2 linked regions of the Homo sapiens genome follow. The protein of the gene in region 1 interacts with the protein of each later gene in a biochemical or structural test. Each region holds a gene or a part of one and is shown on either strand. Other genes may lie near its edges.

Region 1 (2,957 bases):
AATTACATCTGCAAAATCTCTTTTACCATCTAAGGTTACATACAGGTTTGGAGATTAGGACATTAACATTTTACATGGAACATTATTCTTGCCTACTACAGTTCCCACCCACCCCCCGCTCCACTCCTGTGTTAAAGATTCAGATTCATCACAAATAAATTTACATCACTCATAGGTGCTCAAAAGTCACAATCCATTATTACAGCATCAACTCTAAATCCAAAATCTTATCTGAGTCTCACCAACTCAAAAGTCTCAAATCTCACATTGAAGCCATCTAAATTAAGTTTGGGAGAGGATCTGTGTGTGATTTCTGGGACATAATTCCAACTGTGCACTTGTGAACCTAGAAAACAAGTTATCTGTTCCCAAGTATGATGGCATGACAGGCAGACAATAATAGTTACACACGTTCCTGTTCAAAAAGCAGAAACAGATGGAAAAAGGAGCCATCAGCACCAATCAATTTACAAAACCAGCGAGGCACCCTTCTTTAAGTTTCAAGGCCTGGGAGTAATCTTCAGCTCACTGCTGTTCTCTGGGCTTGTTGACTGTCTCAGAGTCATCTTTACTTTTTCACAAAAGGTAGCACACGTTTGCAGCTGAGTATCAACTTATCAGTTTGTTCTTCTTTTATATTCTCTAAAGCTTTCTGTTAAAAATGGTGGTGCTTCTGCTGCTATAACGTTGTCAAGAAACTTGTGGGTCTTTTACATATGTCACAGGGATGCACTCATTTAGATAGGAGGCTCCTCACGTATCTTTCCTGGAAAATCCTGTCTCTGTTTTTGGCTTTTTCTGAAATAGCTGAGAGGATCTATGATTCACACCCTTAATATCTTCAAAGAGTCTTGTGTGTGACCTGATATTCAGACCTTTTGATGTTTCTGAAGTATTAGCAAAAGGTTATACAGCCATATCTTCATCACTTTCTCTAGAGTAAAGGCTGTCCTGACGGTGAATCTTAGTTTTAGTGGCTTTTGCCATTTGAATAGGCCGCGAATTTCCCAAATCATCAAGTCCTGGTTTCTTTATATTTAACAGGTCTTCCCTCAATCTACCTCTTTCCACATTTTACTATAATCAGCAAGAAGACAGCAGGCTGTACCTTCCACAGCTTGCTTGGAAATATCCTCAGCTAAATATTGAAGTCATCACTTAAAAGTTCTGCTTTACACATAACGGCAGGACACAACTCAGCTTAGCTTTTCGCCACTATGTAACAAGGACTCCTTTCCTCCACTTCTCCAGTAACATATTCCTCATTTTTTACCAACAGTCTATTCATGATGATTTAGATATTCTATGGCAATCGAGGTATTCTCTATTATGCTCCTTTCTTCAAGGCCGCCCTAGCATTAACATTCCATATTTCTACTAACAGTCTGTTTAAGGCAGTTTAGCTTCTTTTCTGGCATGCTCCTCAGAATTCTTCCAGCCTCCACCTACTGCCCAATTCCAGAGCCACTTTTCTACTTTTAGGTATTTGTTACAGCAGCACCTCAAGTACCTAGAAAACTCTTTTATGCCTGCTTCTCTGCCAGATGACTTGAATATGGTACTAGATTTGGAATTCACCTTTCTCCAGGGTCACTGTTTATTTCAAAGAGGTGAATTTACCTGTGCTAGGGTTTTCACACTGGGAGTGCTACCAGAACTACCACAGGATGAAAGTGGTGAGCCCACCACTGCAGAGAAGTTTTCTCAGTGCCGTAATATAGAGGAATTCTCAAAATAAGCCCTACTCCTTTTCACTTACTGAAAACAACTTGGATAATGTGTAACAGCCAGCCCCATTTCAAAAAGATTACCAGGGGTAAAACAACTTTTTCATGGGTCAAAATCATCTTCCGAAGAAAATGATTTCTTAAAAGAATTGAACATTGTAAATCAAAGGGCATTGTCCTGTTTTGGATTAACAAAACAGGAAAAATAACCAATCCTTGTAAAATTATTTGAAATTTTCTTGTTTTTATCAGTTGAGTGCCTATAGATGCACATACAAAAACAACTGCCATTTTTGTATATAATAGTCTTCCAAGATAGAGATTTACATTAGGAGAGAATTAAACATCCAGGAGGGATGAACAGTATTTCATGTGTGCTATGTAGTGTTTTGCTTCATTGAGAGTCATTTTCATGAATTATTTTTACTACTGCAGTCATCTTAAATTTATAATCATCTCAAAAAAGATGTCACAATGAACAGACAACCATCTGTGAGGTCAGTCATTTTGCATGATGTATGTAATCAAAAAGTTTGAAATGTCTGCTTACTAATAAAGAATGTTTTCACTGAAACTTATTGGAAAGGTTTTTCAAATTTTCTTTGATTTGTAGTTTTGAGTCCTGAATAGATTGTTTTAACATGAATAACATTTCCTGTGGTTTAATTTCCCTTGGCGCACCTTTGTCAGGGACAGGGAAGGAACTGGTTGTAGCATATTATCTGAATATCCTGTTACTGTTTCTGTTTTTATTCTACCCAAATAAAAAGGTTCAGGTGCTTCTTTTTTGCCACAATGGATTTCTGAAAACCTTGTCACAACTGTGAAAGGAAAGCAAATCTTGGGACCCCAGAATCACTAAGCTAAAGGGAAAAGTCAAGCTGGAAACTGCTTAGTGCAAACCTGCCTCCCATTCATTCTATTCAGTTATCTCTGCTCACTGAGATAAAGGCCTGTCTGATTGCCTCCTTTGGAAGGGCTCATCAGAAACTCAAAAGAATGCAACCATTTGTCTCTTACCTACCTGTGCCCTGGAAGTCCTCTCCCACACTTCGAGTTGTCCTACCTTTCCATATTGATCCAATGTCCATCTTACATATATTGATTGATGTCTTATGTCTCCCTAAAATGTATAAAACCAAGCTGTGCCCCAACCACCTTGGGCTCATGTCATCAGGACGTCCTGAGGCTGTGTCACACCTGTGCATCCTTAACCTTGGCAAAATAAAC
Region 2 (7,411 bases), on another chromosome or scaffold:
TGTAAAAGCATTTTATAGCCCCCACACACACTAAAAATAGCACATAGTACATATGTAGAGGGATAATAGCTACAATTGTTTTCATAACTAGAACTTAAGTCCCTGACTATGGCAGACAGACTAGGAGATCATGCATTTTTTTTTTTTTTTGACACCTAGTTTCACTTTGTCTCCAGGCTGGAGGGCAATGGCTCAATCTCGGCTCACTGCAACATCCGCCTCCTGGATTCAAGCAATTCTCCTGCCTCAGCCTCCCGAGTAGCTGGGACTACAGGTGCACACCACCATGCCCAGCTAATTTTTGTATTTTTGGTACAGACGGGGTTTCACCATGTTGGCCAGGATGGTCTCGATCTCTTGACCTTGTGATCCACCCGCCTTGGCCTCCCAAAGTGCTGGGATTACAGGCATGAGCCATTGCGCCCAGCCGGAGATCACGCATCTTAACCAAGTCTATATATCAGAATCACTTGTGAACCATCATCCTCTTGGAAAATCTTATTTGAACATCTCTCCCAGTGATTTTTGACATCTATCTCTGGTTTTAAAGACTACAGTTCTAGACTGTCTCTTGACAAAACGTTTCTTTGGGTTGCAAAAATCTATGCTAACATGGGAAACAAATGCAAAATCATAATTAATTTCAAAATAGATCATTTCTTTCCTACCCATTTGTGGATAAACACAATCTCTCTTATTTTTGATTCTCACTGGATCAGAGCTGATCAGACCTTAGATATTTAACTTTTTTTCTTGAACCCATGACAGTAGAAGATCAGGTAATAGAAACTCAGTTGGCATTGAGATACAGTATGTATAAATAAAGAGGAACACACATATGTATTTTAAGTTATATATGTATATATGTTATATACATATTTGCATATATTTCATACCTCATATCTTCTGTTTGCTCCTCCAAATCCACTTGCCACCCTTTCCACCATTTTCCTCCCTGTTTTCTGCTGCGGGAGACTGACCTGAATGAACTATAATAGTTCCCATGCCCTCTGGCCAATAGGTAGCTCTGGTAGGACATCATAAAAAGGGAGAAGAATGAATTCAGTTTATTATGCTCCCGGATCACTCCTGGCAAAGTCGTCTTCAACTGGCTGTGTCCTTTGACCAGGTCTCCAGTTGGTAAGCTCTTTATGGCACGCTTTGCTTTCAAGTTCTGATAAGTGTTCCCTTCCCTTATCCCTTGAAGGATGGTAAAAGCTCTGATGCAATTGACCCCAGTTTGTCACACTAGTTCTTGTGGCTTCTCTGCCTTTACACTTTATAAATAGACCCTTGTAAATAAATCCTCCTGAAATTATCTTATTTGAGCATGCCATCTATTTCCTATTTACTGGGTTCCTGACTGATACTGTTTTTTATGTTAATGGTGCCTTTGAGAATATTTGATTAATACCAAAAATTATGGAATGCATGGAGACTTGAGCTTTAGTTTGTAAAAAAAAAAAAAAAAAAAAAAAAGAAGGAAAGAAAAAGCTTTAATTCTTCTAAAAACAGTATACCTTAGCAGCTGAAGAAGAGTGTGATAAATTGTGTTGAAATTGAGGTAGTGGTGGATATGAGAAAATGGGACATTGGTCTGATCTGTGATATGGAAATAAAGCAAGGAAATGTGAATTTTAACTGAATGCAAACACCAAGTCACAAGGCTGAGGCTGTTAGTATTTCTTTTCATGCTCCAGAGACACTTGATCTATAATATTGCATTCATCTGGGGGCAGCTCATTAACAGAAAAATACAGGCAAGCTGGAAGGAGTTCATAGAGGAGTAACAAAATGGTAAAAAGCACTGGAGGATTGACATGTGGGAAGAGATTAAAAAGATGAAATCACTCTGCTTTAGCTAAGTGGTGACTAAGGGGGAACATGTCAACTGTCTACAATTATGTGAAGGTTATAAATTCCAAAAGAAAGGCAGTGATTACTACAAATCAAGGTAGTGCTCTGTGTAAAGAGACACATTAACAAGGGAAAAGTTTAGATCAAATAACAGGACCATTTTCTAATGTAGAGCTATATTATGTCTTATAAAGCTAAGTGTTACACACTATAGCCTTTGAAAAAGACAAAAATGAAACAAATTACAAATCATTTCTTAATGATATATATGAATTCTCTGTAGCTAGATAGATTACATATCTATCCATCTATCTGTTGATATACCTTAGAAATCAGCCTTTTACAAACATATATCGGAATTGAAATAGTGACTGGTGCTATTACTATAGGTTTTGTGCTAGACATTTAACAAGAATCTTGTTTAATTTTAAACATTGTACTTTGACAATTAAGGCAACTGTGGGTTAGAACATCTGAGTAACATTCGGAAGGTCATCCAGCTAGTAAGCAGCAGAGCCAGGAAATGGACCCAGGGGTCTTCATTTCCATTCCTTTGCTAACTAACTCCTGGATAGTTAAAATATTTCAGTACATTATTATATCTTAAATTTTCATTATCCCATTATTTACATGGCTATATGAACTATTTTACTAATTTCCATAAAGCATTTTGTTGCTGATTTCCTTGACTACATAGCAATGTATTTCAGGTACCTTGAAATATAGCTACTTGTAGTCATCAAATCTGAAAGGCACAGACATTTCCGCAGCCATTACCCATTCTTGAGCAATCCATGTGGTCACCACCCATTCTAGCTATGTGGATGAGATAAAGCTCAAATAATTTCATTTCTTTATCCTTCTAGACACTAGTCACTTATAATTTTAGAAAATAATTTCTCCATCCACTACTTTATGCAATTCAAATTACCTAATAAGTTATACCATATTAATGAGGTTTTCATTTGAAAGAAATTATGCTATTGGGCTCTTTATAAAAAGAAAAACTAATCACCTTTCACACTTCGTATATTTTTTCAGTTTAATTAATAGATATTTTGAAAGAAAACCATGCTCATGTATAATATTTCAAACAGTACAGCAGACCATAAAGTAAAATGAATAGAGCCCCCATTCCTCTGCCATCTTTAAATTCTGTGGTTAGAAGTAAATACTGCTAACATTGTCTTTTGTATCCTTTCAGGAGTTTTCTATGTACATATCTGTACACATTTTCTTTTTTATCACTTAGCCATTTATCTTGGTTATCTTTCCATATTAGCACATAAAGTGCTACTTTATCCTTCTAAAACATTCTATTGTATGGGTTATTTATCCAATGCTCTTTCGAGAGGGACATTTAACAGGTTTGTAGAGACTGTTAAACGCACAATTCTGTTATGAACATAGATCTCTATTTATCTTTGTATACTTTCCCATACTGACAGAGCAAATTTCTAGCTGGGGCATTTCTCGGTCAAATTGTGTGCAGTTAAATTTTTATAGGTTTTTACCAAAATGACCATCCCCCAACTTGGGTTTTATGACATAAAAAAAACGTGACAGTTTAAGCAGGCTGTTCATACTTTAAAACTCATATTGAATTTCAAGGTGTGATGGTATCAACTTCTGCTTTGTGGGCATAAAATGGCCATTTGCAAAAGAACATTTTATTCTACGTAGATGTATTAGTCCTGGATCAGGCTTACCTTTGCCCACTTATATTTGTAAATCAATAACATGTCTTATCTGTATTTTCCCATGGCTTAATTAAAATAAATGTACTAATGTTTAAAATAATGAATTTGATTACTTCTTTGTTCTAGGCTTTTGCTTGGGTTATTTCTTCTACCTGGACAATCTGCCTTGCTCCAACCTTGCATGTCTAAATTCCACCTACCCTTCATGCTTTATTTAAAATGATACCTTCCCCATCTGAATCATGTTTCCTTCCTCAGAACTTTCAGCACCTCTATTTAACCCTTTTGTAATAAAGCTATACATTTATAAATCCCTGAAAATGATAGCTGTCATTATTAGTAGGCTCTGGATCTCTTCAGTTCTATAAATGTTCTTATCTTTCCCTGTTTGCACTTACCTGCTCCATGGATTAATTTAGTCCAAACTACATATTCAGTATTGTGATACTACTTTTATTTTATTTAAAAAAAATCCACATTTTCATTTTTAACATCAACTAATTAAAATAATATTTTTATCCTAAAGTTCCAGGATTTCCAATACAGCAGAACATGATTTAAAAATATCTGTTTGGAACTTAGCTCATAAACAAATACAGCTTTAAAAACTGCCAGTTAAATCTGAAACATACTGGTGGGAGTAGCATGGATGCTATCATATGCAAGGCCTTTAGGGGGAGGCTAGCAGGGTTGCAGGCTAGCATAGTTGACACGCCATTGGACCTATTTATAGAGCTGAGTTCTTTTTGCAATGTCAACTGTAACATTATACCTATTTTAAGCCTCAGTATCTCAAATGTCAGCCTCTACTAGTCGTACAGTTCTCTCTTATTTGATATCAGAGAGCCCAATGGAGCCTTCTGAAGTACCTAGTCAGATTAGCAAAGATAATTTTTTAGAAGTTCCTAATTTATCTGACTCTCTTTGTGAAGATGAAGAAGTTACTTTCCAACCTGGTTTCTCCCCTCAACCAAGTAGACGAGGTTCTGATTCTTCTGAAGACATATACCTGGATACCCCATCTTCAGGTACTAGAAGAGTTTCATTTGCTGATTCCTTTGGATTCAATCTTGTGTCTGTTAAAGAATTTGATTGCTGGGAATTACCGAGTGCTTCAACCACTTTTGACTTAGGGACGGACATTTTCCACACAGAAGAATATGTTTTAGCCCCACTGTTTGACTTGCCTTCTTCAAAAGAAGATCTTATGCAACAACTCCAAATACAGAAAGCAATACTGGAGTCAACTGAGTCTCTTCTTGGGTCTACAAGTATCAAGGGTATTATTCGAGTTTTGAATGTTTCTTTTGAGAAGTTAGTATATGTAAGAATGTCTTTAGATGACTGGCAGACACATTATGACATTTTAGCAGAATATGTTCCTAATTCATGTGATGGTGAAACTGACCAGTTCTCCTTTAAGATTGTATTGGTTCCTCCTTATCAAAAAGATGGCAGTAAAGTTGAGTTTTGTATACGTTATGAAACTTCTGTTGGTACATTTTGGTCAAATAATAATGGCACAAATTATACATTCATTTGTCAAAAGAAAGAACAAGAGCCGGAGCCTGTAAAACCATGGAAAGAAGTTCCTAACAGACAAATAAAAGGCTGCTTAAAGGTAAAATCAAGGTGAGGATATATCTTACATATTTTATTATTCACAATCTTAAAGTTTTTATGTCATTCTTTATTTCATGTGTTGTAAGAAAGTGACTCTATTTAAAAATATACTGCTTGCTATGTAAAAAACAATGGTGCCAGGCTTTAACAAGGTCAAAGCTATTCAAATAATAGCACTGTGTAACCCTTTCTACAAATGTGAGAAAAAATATGGCTGTAATGCAATAGGTTGGGAGAGAAGTGCACTGTGTATATTACTTGCCTAATGAGTTATAAATTATTCCTGCTCAAACCATGAAATCTAGATTATTCACATATAAAATTATTTACTTTGACATTTAAAGTACTTTTATTTTCAGTCGTTTTTAAATGTCTATGCTTTCCTTTGAAACAGTTTTGATTAACATAAAACTATATTTCAATATGTATCTAGTTCTCAGAAATTTGTAAACTTCTCCCAAAAGCTGCAAAGAACTTCTTCATAACTGTTTTGAGTTATACAGGGATGTTTGAAGTGATACATGTTAATTTAAATTATAAAAGAAATGACCTTAATGATTAACAGAAAGACATAAGTATATCAGTGATATATGAGTTACACACAAAATTTCATTAATTATAACCAAGAATAACATTATGGAACACAAATTAGTATAATTTAGTAAAAGTCAATGGAGCAGAACAAAAAATGACCCAAATATAAATAGGGATATTCAGCTATATAGATTAGAGATTTGGGATGTGACCCCTCATTAGTAACCTTACTCTCTTGTTAATGTGAAAAATAAGAAAAACTGGCATTCAGCTGTCTCGATAGTACATAGCTGGCTAATTTCTGTGACACTAGGTAAGTAGAGAAAACATTCAGGAGAAGTGAGACCCCTTCTGCTCCTCAGTATCCCAGAGGGAAAGTCTACATTGCTCCAGCCACAGGCAAATGTTTGATCATCCTCTGAGTGGTCCATCTTAACTGTCCCTAAACCCAAGGATTTTGGTAACTGTACCAGAAATAGTGTAATGTAGGAAATAGGAAATATAGGAAATAGGAAAGGGAACTGTTTTGGAATCAAGACACCCAGATTTAATTCTCTAAGGGGAATTTAATACAAAGCATAAGATACGATATTGGGAAATTTTTTTAAAAATTGTGCTTTAAACGATAAATAATAACTACTAAATGCATTGTTCCAATGTATTAATAAACTAAATGCAGTATAGATGGAAGCAATTCAAACATATATATTATGTTTATTTTCATTTTCCTTTAAAGTCATCTGAAATATTGGCTTAATCAACTTTGTGAATTAGGCCAACTTTCTTGGTCTAAATCAAACTTTCTTTGATTTTAACTGATGCTGTTAGGAAAGAGAGTATAATAATCTCTACATAGGCTAAAATAATAATTTAGATGTTTATGAAATTACTCTAACACATTAGCTACACTAACAAAATAAGTTCAACATTATTTAGCAAACTAATTTATATGCATAATATATACATATTAAATACTTTAGAAATGAGATAAGCATTAGTGAATATCTGTTAAACACACTGCAACTTGCTCTATATGTTAGAGAAACCAAAATTTAGAAAAGGCGCAGCATTATTGTCTAAAAGCTCATAAAAGAGGCAGTGTTGAACTCAGCGGATTTTTCTGCAATTTAATGCAGTTTTAAAATTCAAGCAATACCTGCTGAACTGTGGTTTGGATAGGGGATTCCTTTGATTCCTTTGATATGCCAAACTTGACTGATACCAAGGCAAAGACTAGCCAACTGATAGGCCTCATCTTCTACCTTGGTCATAATATTTTTGGAACTTCTCCTAGTTGAAGATATGTAGAACTATATGTATCCACACATACATTTGTATTCAGAACAGTAATCATTGGATTCACAGCGGACACCATTCAAGTTTTAATATTGCTTTGGGGAAAAACCTGAGAAGAACTAAACCACAAAATGGTCTGAAGGCCTGTAAAGTTTCCTAATGAGTTATAAAAATGGAAAAAATCTCTCTCCCTCAAAACCACAAATACATTTTCTGCACTTCTGTAACTTAAAAATGACCAACATAATTCGAACCACATTTTGAAAAAAGCATTTGCCTCTGGAGGAGGCATTTTGTGCTGAATTTCAGTCCAACATGAATTTTTACATCTGATTTATATACCACTCAAAATGGAGTGTATAAAGGAAATCCTGACAGATCCTTAGAACAGCATGTGCCAT

Evidence for each region.
Region 2: the proteins of UBXN2B (region 1) and PPP1R3A form a complex in vitro, tested with the Homo sapiens proteins (one study listed by BioGRID).

What each region holds. Positions count from the first base shown.
Region 1 is NC_000008.11:58,449,197-58,452,153, forward strand, and holds the end of UBXN2B (UBX domain-containing protein 2B), read left to right. Parts: 3' UTR 1-2,305; downstream 2,306-2,957. UniProt on the Homo sapiens protein: Adapter protein required for Golgi and endoplasmic reticulum biogenesis. Involved in Golgi and endoplasmic reticulum maintenance during interphase and in their reassembly at the end of mitosis.
Region 2 is NC_000007.14:113,915,993-113,923,403, reverse strand, and holds the start of PPP1R3A (protein phosphatase 1 regulatory subunit 3A), read left to right. Parts: upstream 1-4,394; 5' UTR 4,395-4,407; coding exon 4,408-5,189; intron 5,190-7,411. UniProt on the Homo sapiens protein: Seems to act as a glycogen-targeting subunit for PP1. PP1 is essential for cell division, and participates in the regulation of glycogen metabolism, muscle contractility and protein synthesis.